2 separate regions of the Homo sapiens genome follow, and region 2 is linked to region 1. The links come from fine-mapping of genetic effects on gene expression. A gene starts in region 1. The other region holds a variant in brackets. All regions are shown on one strand. Distances are between the middles of the regions. Region 1 holds the start of LINC03083 (long intergenic non-protein coding RNA 3083). Region 2 has its middle 26 kb from the start of LINC03083.

The links. PIP is the estimated chance that this variant, and not a neighbour inherited with it, causes the effect. A credible set is the group of variants that fine-mapping cannot tell apart.
Region 2: its variant is the best candidate, but not a certain one, in a credible set for the expression of LINC03083 in caudate (GTEx, PIP 0.51).

What each region holds. Positions count from the first base shown.
Region 1 is chr20:20,967,404-20,972,790 of GRCh38, reverse strand. It overlaps LINC03083 (long intergenic non-protein coding RNA 3083), which reads right to left and starts at 2,343. Exons shown (of 2, transcript NR_186504.1): 1 at 2,243-2,343; 2 at 229-639.
Region 2 is chr20:20,941,806-20,947,192 of GRCh38, reverse strand. No RefSeq gene overlaps it. Among named protein-coding and RNA genes, the nearest start is that of LINC03083, 26 kb to the left of the region's middle. The variant T/G (reference allele first, on the strand shown) is at 3,249.

The DNA.
Region 1 (5,387 bases):
GCCCTGGAATCTGGGGTCCAGTGGTAATGAAAAGCCTGTGAGACTGCCTAGGTTCAAGGCATGGCTCTATGGCCACTGGTGGAGTGAATATGGGCAAATTATTTTCAGGGCCTCAGTGACTCATCTGTAAAATGGGCCTAATGATAGCAGCATCTCATGGGGCTTGGGGGGAAATCAAATATTCGGTGCCTAGAATAGTATCTGGTAAATAGTGAATACTCAAATATTGTAGCTTAAATCATTTTATTACCATTATCCTTAAAGGCAATTTGAGGGACTAAAACAATTTGAGACACTAACATTTCTCAACTAACAAGAGGCAACAGAAATAAGAGGAGGGCCGTACCCCCGTAGGCTTGTAGTCAGCTGAGCTTCCTGGGAAACGGGAAAGACAAGCTGGCACCGGGGCAGGAACGGAAGCTCCTGTCTCTTCAGTACTTTTGTTCTACCTCACTCCGGCATTGGAAACCTGGTCACAAATGCCTTGTCATTTGCTGGGCTCTGCCTTCCTCCTCATCCATCAAGGGTTCTCCTTGGCTCTTCAATCCAGTGTTCTTAGACCTTTAAAACGCCTTTATTCTCCAGCCAGTGCTGTTGGCCTTTGAGATGTCATTACTGTGCACGTAGCGGCTCCGGTGCCTACACAGTGGGAAAAACCATCAAGAGTACACAGATAAACCCAGGCTGCCAACTTCACACACTCAGCAAGTCCCCTCTGTGGACAATTAGGGCCAAAAGACAAATATTGACACATTAGACTATTTCCTCATTTATTTTCTGTTGATTGTCTGGGCAATCTGATGGGGCAAAATTCCACTTTTCTGATAACTGATTCTTGGCTAATGGAAACAAATAAAGTAAAGGCTTCTGTCCACAATGGGTCGAGGCCCATTTTGCGGAACTGCTAATCGGATTAAATGGACTCCCAGCTCTATTTGCAGCCACCAAACTCCCTTGAACACTTTCCACATCTGAAGGGTACCCATCATGGTGGCTCTCTTGCTGTTGAAATCAAATGGAGAGGAGCACGCAAAGTCTTGAAACTGCAGCGAAGCCTTCTCCAAGCGAACAAAATACAGGGATGAGGAGAAATGCGTGCCGAGTCCTCCCAATTAAGTGGACAGACAGAGAAAGTGGTTCTGGCCAGCGAGCTGCAGAAATCTATTTTCCTCCTTATAAACACATTTTTCCCCTATTTTTCTTCTTCTTCTTTTTTTTTAAACTGATAATGAGAGTAGTGAACGTGTAAACTTCCACTACTGTGATCCTCATCTCCCGAAAAACCAGAAGTCCTGCAAAAGTCGTCCTCATCGAGCATTCTGGGGGGCAATGCATCTTTCTGATTTTGCCAATTTATCTAGAAAATATTACAATTTAATCTATGTTAATAAAAGACCAACAGGGTAACAATGCCTGGGGTTTTATGTGTCTGGCTGGCGTCTATTAGCATTTAAATCTGCATCCATTACGTTAGTCCCTTAAAATAAACACAAACATTTATGCGAGCGACAATTCGAGTTAGCCTTAGTCAGTCTTAAATAATGTCACTCAACTCGGTATTTGGACCGAAGCCTGTGAATCATGAGGTATATTTTTGCCTACAGTCTGATAATTTTCAAAGCTATTGGCAACCTGGGAATTTTCCTTCCTTATCACCAGGGCTCAGCTAACTTCACTAAGACTAATCAGGCTGGGAATCATTCATTCAAGGATTGCATGATCATGTTTTTCTTTAGCTGTGACAGCTGCCTCAGTCACATTAGCAATGCAGATTAGCCAGCCTAATAGGTTAATGCAGAACACACGAAAATTAGGTTTAATCCCCAGTGAAATAATCTAACATTTTCACATTTCTTGATGTTGGGATAGAGACATTGCTGGTGACTCAATTAGGTGTAATGTAGATCAAAGCAAATTTACCTTCTGGCTGAACCTTCCCAATAGTTTAGACAGAAGAATATAGCAAGGGCCCTCTACTAATTGGTGAATAGCTGTGGGGAAAATTGCATTAGGAACATGTAGGATGTGAGCAGAACTCTTCGGCCGAGGACAGACAATTGACGTATTTTGCAAATATCCACATCTCTCACTTTGCCATGCCTCCCAATGATGTTGCAGCTCAGCGCAGATGCAAACACCTTATGTACCAACCCATTCATCCTTTGGGCATAACTGCAATAAATGGGAACACACACACATACACACACACGCTCTCTCTCTCTCTCTCTCTCTCAATCCATACCTTTTTCACGTCCTGTCCAGGAGTATCACAATTGTGTTCTGAATGGGCCTGCATTGTGAGAGGAGCAGAAAGAGAACGAGAGGGTGTCTAATGTTTTCATTCTGGCGAATAGCATCTCAAACACCCATCTCTTTCAATCATAAAGGGAAGGACACAAAAAATTACATGCCCTCAGTTGCCAAATTATTTTTTGCCTTGACATCTTAATTCTTAATCCTTGTATGTGGTCAAATCAGTCTACTATAGGCAACCAATCAAGCAATTATTTCTAAATTATATTTGCCCAACTCACATTGATTGGCCATTCTTTTCTTACTGGGTTAGCTCATTAATTCTGAGCAGCTCGCTTATTATGCCTTCCACATCATTTTCCTTCCGAGCCTATCTGCTCCAGCCAGCCTGCTGATGTTTCAAGATGCCATACAGGGGAGGGGGAAAAAAGCAACCAGCGATCTACGCATTGTCTCCTCTAGCAATTACAATTCACATTGCTGATTAACTTTGATGTGAAAACTAATGAGATAAGACAAGTTATCAAGGCGGGCCTGATCATCATTCCATTTATACAGCATTTGCCACCGGTGAATGACAAAAAACTAATGAAGACATATCTGACAGCAGGCTGAGCGGAGGCAGGTTTCGGTTCCCCATCAGCCAGAGCTCGGCTCCCTTCTCATGGTCTATCTGAGACACGTTGGAATTAGCTTAATAATGAAAACACTTCATCTAAACGGACACATGTTTACATTAAAATAACTACATGATAAATAGATGGCGGAGATTTTATGCCTTCTTGAGTCTAAACAACAAAGTAAAAATGTGTTCTAGTATTCACTAAATCATTCGAAGGAAAATTCAATTTAAGCTATTATACTTATCACTAAGCGTCCCCCCCTGCTTATGGGTAACAAATGTTGGTTTTCAGAGGGTGGGGGAAGAGATGCGATCTGGGAAGAACAGGAGTGATTTACTTTGTGAAGATGGTAATGGCAGATAAACAGAAGTACAATATTGGTAAAGCTAATGAACATTGTTCACACAGTAATAACTTCGTGGTGGGGAAGATCCACTGGAATGGCATTCCCAGCTGTACATTTTTGTAAGTTCTCTTCATTTTCTGAACTCCAGCACTGAAGATCTCCGCTTTCAATTCACGTGTGAAGATGGTTCCATTCCTTTCTACACAAACATCTATGACTTTAGAAAAAACCCAAAGCATTTCCCTGGATATGTTTGTATATATTTTTTTCTAACGAATTAACGAGGCAAGGCAGATATTACACAGGAAATGTACATTTTCTTTGGATACAGTTTTTGGTGCTGAACATTAAATATTTTTAAAAAGTACATGCTTTATTTAGTTGGTTAAATAAAGTGGTTACATAGGAGCTGCAATAAAATTCATAAGTGTTCATATGGTTAAAAGGATTCGAGTTCATTTTTGCCTCTGCAACATCCTTGTTACATTAGCCTTATAAAAATGAAAGGAAGTCAAAGGCTGATTGTTTTTATAAATAACACTGCTTTCCCAATGAGTTATTTTGTTACTTTGATAAATCATTTCCTAAAACATAAAAAAAGAAAAAAAAAGTTCGTTTTCCTAGAAGCAGCTTTCTTCCTCATAACATATGCAAGTGTATTCTGTTTTTCATACATAAACATCATAGCATATTATTCCACTCAAATATCATGGGAAAAGCCAGAATAAAAAAGCAAAAATAAGTTCTGGCATTCCTTTTTTTAAAAATAGGTAGTAGTTTTTATTTTCTTTAGGCGAATATGATTAGAAATATTTTTAAGGCAACCGTCCACAGGTATTTCCAGTTATGTACTTTGAACTTTAAGAAACAGAAATACAAGAATAATATCAGCGACCATCATCAAAATCTCCCCCACCCTGTTGTTCTCCCAGCAGTCACAAACAAAAACAGCCACAAAACAAAACAAAAAATTAACACAAACCTATGTTTCTCGAGTGGCCATACTAAAGAAATCTACCGTTTCTGATGAAAGTTAACCGAAAGTACTGGTTTAAGGATGAAGAAACAAATTAGTACTCCAGTGAGGGATTAAGTTTAAAAGCTCTTCTCAGAACCGAAGATAAATCCTGTATATTAGAAGACACTATAAAAGTACTTGCGTAAGAGCTAAAGGCACAAGTGGAAAAAGTTGACCCCCAAGATGGTTTGATGATGGTGTGCTGTTTATAAAATTCACCTGCAATGAAAGGCGCCTGCAAGGACAGCACCCACTAAACACAGAAGCAATTGTACTAGAAAACAGGTTTCCAGTTTTGACTCAAGTGACTAAATTAAACCCATCTGAACAAGGGCTGACCGATTTCTTCTCTCCAACCCGTCTCTTCCCCCTCCTCTCTACACATTGGCTTCTCTTTTAGCCCATTTCTCTCTTGAATGCTCTCCTAGTTATGTTTACCACTCAATTCTAATGTTAATTAGAGACATACACATCAGTATTAGTAACCCACGTTTTCATCAGCACAGCCCACCCTGCCAAATGAAAAACCCGAGCGTGTGTCTGCGTGTAAGCCAACAATGCAGACATGGCCGTATTCTTGAAAGCACATATCTAACATTCCTTCCTCCCTGGTGTTAATTTTCCCTTTCTATGTACTCTTATTATGCTATCTCTAACATGGGTGGCGGGTTCCTTTTTAGCCTATTTCTTTAATCTATTTTAATAAATAATTACAGGCAGGCGGCAGGATTTATTCATTCCAGAGGGCTACCTCCTTCACATTTTTTTCCAGAGGCGCAGCTCAAGGAGACATGGTGATAATCACAGAGGCCTGGAATCCCTTCCACACAATGTCATTATGAGCTCCCATTTAAAATGAAAAATGTATATTACACTCAAAAGCGATACAAGGTTAGCGCCTCTTTCCCAGGAATGCTTCACAACAAGGGACACTCTGGTTCCATATTCAGGAAAGGAGCTGGAGGAAGAAGGAATGAAAATAAAAATCACTACAAAATATTTTTAAGACATTAAACAGGATCTTCATCGGGAAAAAAAGATCATACTCATTGTTTTTGCTACAATAGGGAATACTTATCTTTCACAGGGTTGTTTGAGAATTTTATTCCTAAACGGATCAATCTACTTTGTTAGTATGGTCCTTGGG
Region 2 (5,387 bases), 26 kb after region 1:
GCTGGAGTGCAGTGGCGTGATCTCAGCTCACTGCAACCTCCACCTCCCAGGTTCAAGTGATTCTCCTGCCTCAGCCTCCTGAGTAGCTGGGATTATAGGTGTCCACCAACACACCTGGCTAATTTTTTATATTTTTAGTAGAGGCAGAGTTTCACCATGTTGGCTAAGCTGGTCTAGAATTCCTGACCTCAAGTGATCCGCCTGCCTTGGCCTCCCAAAGTACTGGGATTTATAAGCGTGAGCCACCACGCCTAGCCAGCCCATTATTAATGAAGAGAGAGTAGCGTCGATGAGGATGGCAGTGGGGGAGATAAAATGGGAAGTGTTCAGAGTCTAGAGGGTAGGGGATCTCCAAATCTTTGAATATCTTCCAGATATACCATGTTTATTAGCAAAGTCTAGTCTTTATCAATCAGATACTTAACCTGGGTGATAGAAAATGTTAATATTGGGAATTTCGCCCATGCTGCAATTCAGCAATGCATACGGCCATTTTTAGACTTGCTTTTCAATGGACTCATTGTGTCAGTTCTAAGCATAAAAGGCATTACTTAGTAGGGTCACACCATGTTCCCAAAGGTCTGCTTTCAGCTGCACAACCCAGATACAGAACTTATTCTTCAGCCACTGGAAATTGTTCACAGCTGTTTTGAGCCCCCACCTTATCTCCTTTAAACAGCTCTGTGGCTACACAAACCTCCAAAGCCTCACCCATGGAGGTAGTCTGAGTCATAGGCAACCACAAGCAGCAGCTTAATGTACCATTACATTGCTCTTTATAATGGAATGATTGCCTTTGATCCCAGGTTATAAAGACTGTCTTGCTGCCCTGATTACTATTCCAAACACCCTGCACATCTTCTGAGTGTCTGGTTCCATGAAACCCCACTCCTGGCACTAACTTTGTTATAGTAAGTCTTTTTGGTCCCAAGGAACAGAGATTCATTCAAATGAATTAGGAATGAGGAAATTTATTGTAATTTATTACAAGTAGGCAGTTGAACTTGGAATGACATTGAAAGCCGACAGGGATTTTTGAACTCTCTTGGAATCCTTGCTCCTCTCTTTATCTGTCCTCGTTTTTCCTCTTATCAGTTGATTCCATTTGTTTATTCTCTCTATATTTTTCTCAATCTCATAGTTTCTGCTGTTCATGGATTCTGCTCCTTCATAATTTCAATTTAATTTGAATTGGCACATGATGACCTCTTTTTTTTTTTTTTTTTTGGATGGAGTCTCTCTCTGTCACCCAGGCTGGAGTGCAGTGGCACCATCTCGGCTCATTGCCACCTCCACCTCCCAGGTTCAAGTGATTCTCCTGCCTCAGTCTCCCGAGTAGCTGGGACTACAGTGTGTGCCACCACGCCTGGCTAATTTTTTGTATTTTAAGTAGAGACAGGGTTTCACCATGTTAAACAGGATGGTCTCAATCTCCTGACCTCATGATCCACCCACCTCAGACTCCCAAAGTGTGGGGATTACAGGCATGAGCCACCGCGCCTGGCCTGAACTCTTTTAATGCCATAAATGTTCTGCTTCCACTGGTGACTAGCAAATTTTCTCTATCATTTTAGTGATACAAGCAGAGGTTTGAAAAGTGCTTGTCTGGCTGGGCACCATGGCTCATGCCTGTAATTTCAGCACTTTGGGAGGCCGAGGCTGGCAGATCACTTGAGGTTAGGAGTTCGAGACCAGCCTGGCCAATGTAGTGAAACCCCATCTCTATTAAAAATACAAAAAATAGCTGGATGTCATGGTGCATGCCTGTAATCCCAGCTACTTGGGAGGCTGAGGCAGGAGAATCGCTTGAACCCAGGAGGCAGAAGTTGCAGTGAGTTGAGATAGCACTACTGCACTCCATCCTGGGCAACAAAGTGAGACTTCATCTCAAAAAAAAGAGAAAAAGAAAAGAAAAGTGCTTGTCTTCTTATGTTGCTCTTACAGCCCTTTGAGCACCCTGTAGATAAGTCCAAGTTAGCCTTCTGGAGAGGCCCACCCAAAGACACCTTTGCCTATTGGCCTCCTGTCATACGAATGAGGAGTTTAAGATCATCCAGCTCAGCAGAGCCCCATGTGCCTGACTTCAGTCACATGAGTGAGCCCAATATTAGTCCAGGCAGGATCAGCAGAAAAACCATACAGTTGAGCCTAGGTTAGGTTACCAACTCACAGAATCATGAGCTACGACATCATTGCTGTTTTAAGCTACAAAGATGTGAAGCTTTTTGTTATGCTGCAAAAGCTAACTGCAACACCAAGCAAGTCAATGGGCCAAGTCTATTGGATCAATGGATCATGTTAGTGGATATGATGTTTTCACAGAGTGAGGAAGTGTGTATTTGGAAAAACTAATATAACCTATCACAATACCTGTTTTTCATACTAAATATGATGATGCTCATCTTGGGTCTTGTTTATTTAGTCCCCTCATCACTCCGCACAATGGATGACTTGTAGCATATACTTTCAGATGTTGGTGAATAAATGTCACAATGAAAAAGGAACATTCTCTACCCTCAAGCTGCTTATTGTTTAGATATGGAGATAAGACACAAATTCAGTAACTCTCACAGAAAAACAAGAATAATAGTGCCATGGAAAGTGTCAAGCTCTACCAAGGCAGATGACAAATATTTCCACTTGGAGGCAGGTGAAGGAATAGAAGAAAATCAGGGGAGGCTTCCTGTAAGTCACAGCATTTAAACTTGGCTTGAAGGATGGACAGAATTTTAAAAGGAGCTGGTGAACAAGACAGTTTTTGTTCTTTGCGTGAAAAACAAATGAAGATGCTAGAGCTACTCTCCTGTTTGGGATAAGGCAAAAATCCTGACTTGATGGAGGCATGCTGTGATGTACAGGCACTTAAGGCTAGAAAGGAAGAGTGCTGACAGGCTGAGCTGTGTATTAACACAATGACTCTCAAATAATCCAGGAGCAGCTAAATGATTCAGCATATTATTGCGCTATTGTGGGATGGGATATTTGTAACCATAAAAAGTTTGCTTTTGAAAAATGTTTAATAACATGAGTTGTAGTTAAATGACTAAAAATTGTACCAATCTAGTTTTATTAAAATTTATATATTAATTTTAATATTTATTATATATATGTATATTTATATAGAAATTTAATAATTTTTGAACTCTAAACTGAGAACATTCGTAACTAAAATCAAGCCATTAGGCTGGGCACAGTGGCTCACGCCTATAATCCCAGCATTTTGGGAGGCCGAGGTGGGTGGATCACAA[T/G]GTCAGGAGATCGAGACCATCCTGGCTAACACAGTGAAACTCCGTCTCTACTAAAAATACAAAAAATTAGCCGGACGTGGTGGCACGTGCCTGTAGTCCCAGCTACTTGGGAGACTGAGGCAGAAGAATCACTTGAACCTGGGAGGCAGAGGTTGCAGCGAGCCAAGATTGTGCCACTGCACTCCAGCCTGAGCGACAGAGTGAGAATCCATCTCAAAAAAAAAAAAACAAAAAAACAAAAAAACAAGCCACTAATCAGAGAGGCAATAAATTGCTGGTAGTATAATATTGTCAGCAACTGTCCTAAGTGCTCTGCACACATTAGCTCATTTCTTCATAATGAGGTCATTTATTCCTTCCCCTTATGAAGTTAGATGCCATTATTATCCGCCTATTGCCAGTACGGTGAAACAGCATGGTTTGTAGGATATAATCCCAAAGTAGCTTCCTTTGTGCCACTGCCTTTTAAAATGATCCCTTTGGACTCATTCTCCTCTTGCCCATAGATTAAAATTAGCATGTCTCATGTGTTTTCTGCCCATTTTCCTGTCAATAGCTAATATGCCTAGTTCAGGGTAGTAATCAATACTTTATGCATCATTCATGGTTGCCATTATTCCCCTTTCCCAGCCTGGGAGAGTGACTTACCTGGAAGTAGGTGGGAGGAGCTGGGCTGAGGAGGAAAGGCGGGAAAGGGGTGGGAACATTGTTACTTGGCTCCTGGAGAGCGTAGAGAGCTGGTGTTGGCACTCTCTGGATTTGCAGGTGTTTAAGGCTCATCATTTTTGTCAAGGGCCATGTTTATGGGTTCTCTTACTTCCCTAGGGATCTGCCATATTCAGTTACCTTATTGCTGATGAAAGCGTCTCTCTTTGGATGGTTGGTTATGAACTCCTTCTCCAGCCAAAAAGCATCTGGTGGTATCTCCATCTCCTTTCAAAGGTGATCTTTTTGCTTCTTCAGATGACTCCCAGGCAGCTTCTGGGATGACTCCAGGAAGATGCTCCTTCATGCATAACACACAGGAAACACTTGTTTATCCTTTGTCCTCAGAGACTCTGGGAGTGAAGTTTGCTCAGGGCAGCCACTTCATTTTGCCTTTTGCCATCAGAACAGTTAGCTTGTTTCTTTCCATTTAAGGTGTCAGGCTTGGGTCAGACCAGTCCACTGTGTCTTCATGACTGCAGGAGACCTCATCATGCCCTCAACTTCTCTATAGGCACTATTCCTTTGACTTGAGATGAACAGAACATCTAAACCTTTCTATTCTGTGAGAGTACAGGACTCAGAGCAGAATCAATTCTTCCAAAAATTATCTTCTTTCTTCTCCGGTAGCCTCCAGTCCTTTTATTCCATTTCTGTGGGTGAACAATTAAGTCACAAAGCAAGCACGAGTCACTTCTTTCATAAAACCTATATCATGGACTTGCAACTTATTTGGAAGGAGCATCAATTGTCTTGGGCTGAGACCCGCTTGAACATCTTGTTAGATTCCATTTGAGCAGCAGAGATGGATTAAATAGTTAGCTAAAGGTAAATGCTGCAAGTGGAATTCCAGTCTGGACAGTCAAGATTCAAAATCCAGACTCTTTATCTTTGATTGAAAGTCTTAGAAATAAATTTTATTTCCCTCTCTATGTTTGTCTGTATATTATATATTTTCCTATATATATGTATGTATGCATCTGTATATGTACAATAATAGTTGTACAATAAGTAAAGTTATATTTTAAAGATTACGCAAGCAAAAGCATTCAGCGCAGTTTAGTGTGATGGGAAATTGCAGACAGGAATAGTGGATAAGAGGTTGTTTGAATAGTCAATAATTAACACTACAACAATATCAATCATAATAAAACTCACTCCCCCTCCCCTGCCTTTTCACAGAGCATGCCCAACAATGTCCTTACAGCAGATACAAACACAAGCATCATGAAGGTTTCCCCTATAATTTCCTCTGTGATACATTGATAGGGTCATGCCAAAACACAACCTGGTAGAAGCTGTTCTGAGAGAGCAAAAACAATTCAGTCCTAGGACACCAGCTCTCTGCCACCTGAGATTAATGCAGCGAGACATTTTACAGGACTCAGGCAATGGCTGGATGGCATAACTTTCAGACCGTCCTTTGTAAATATT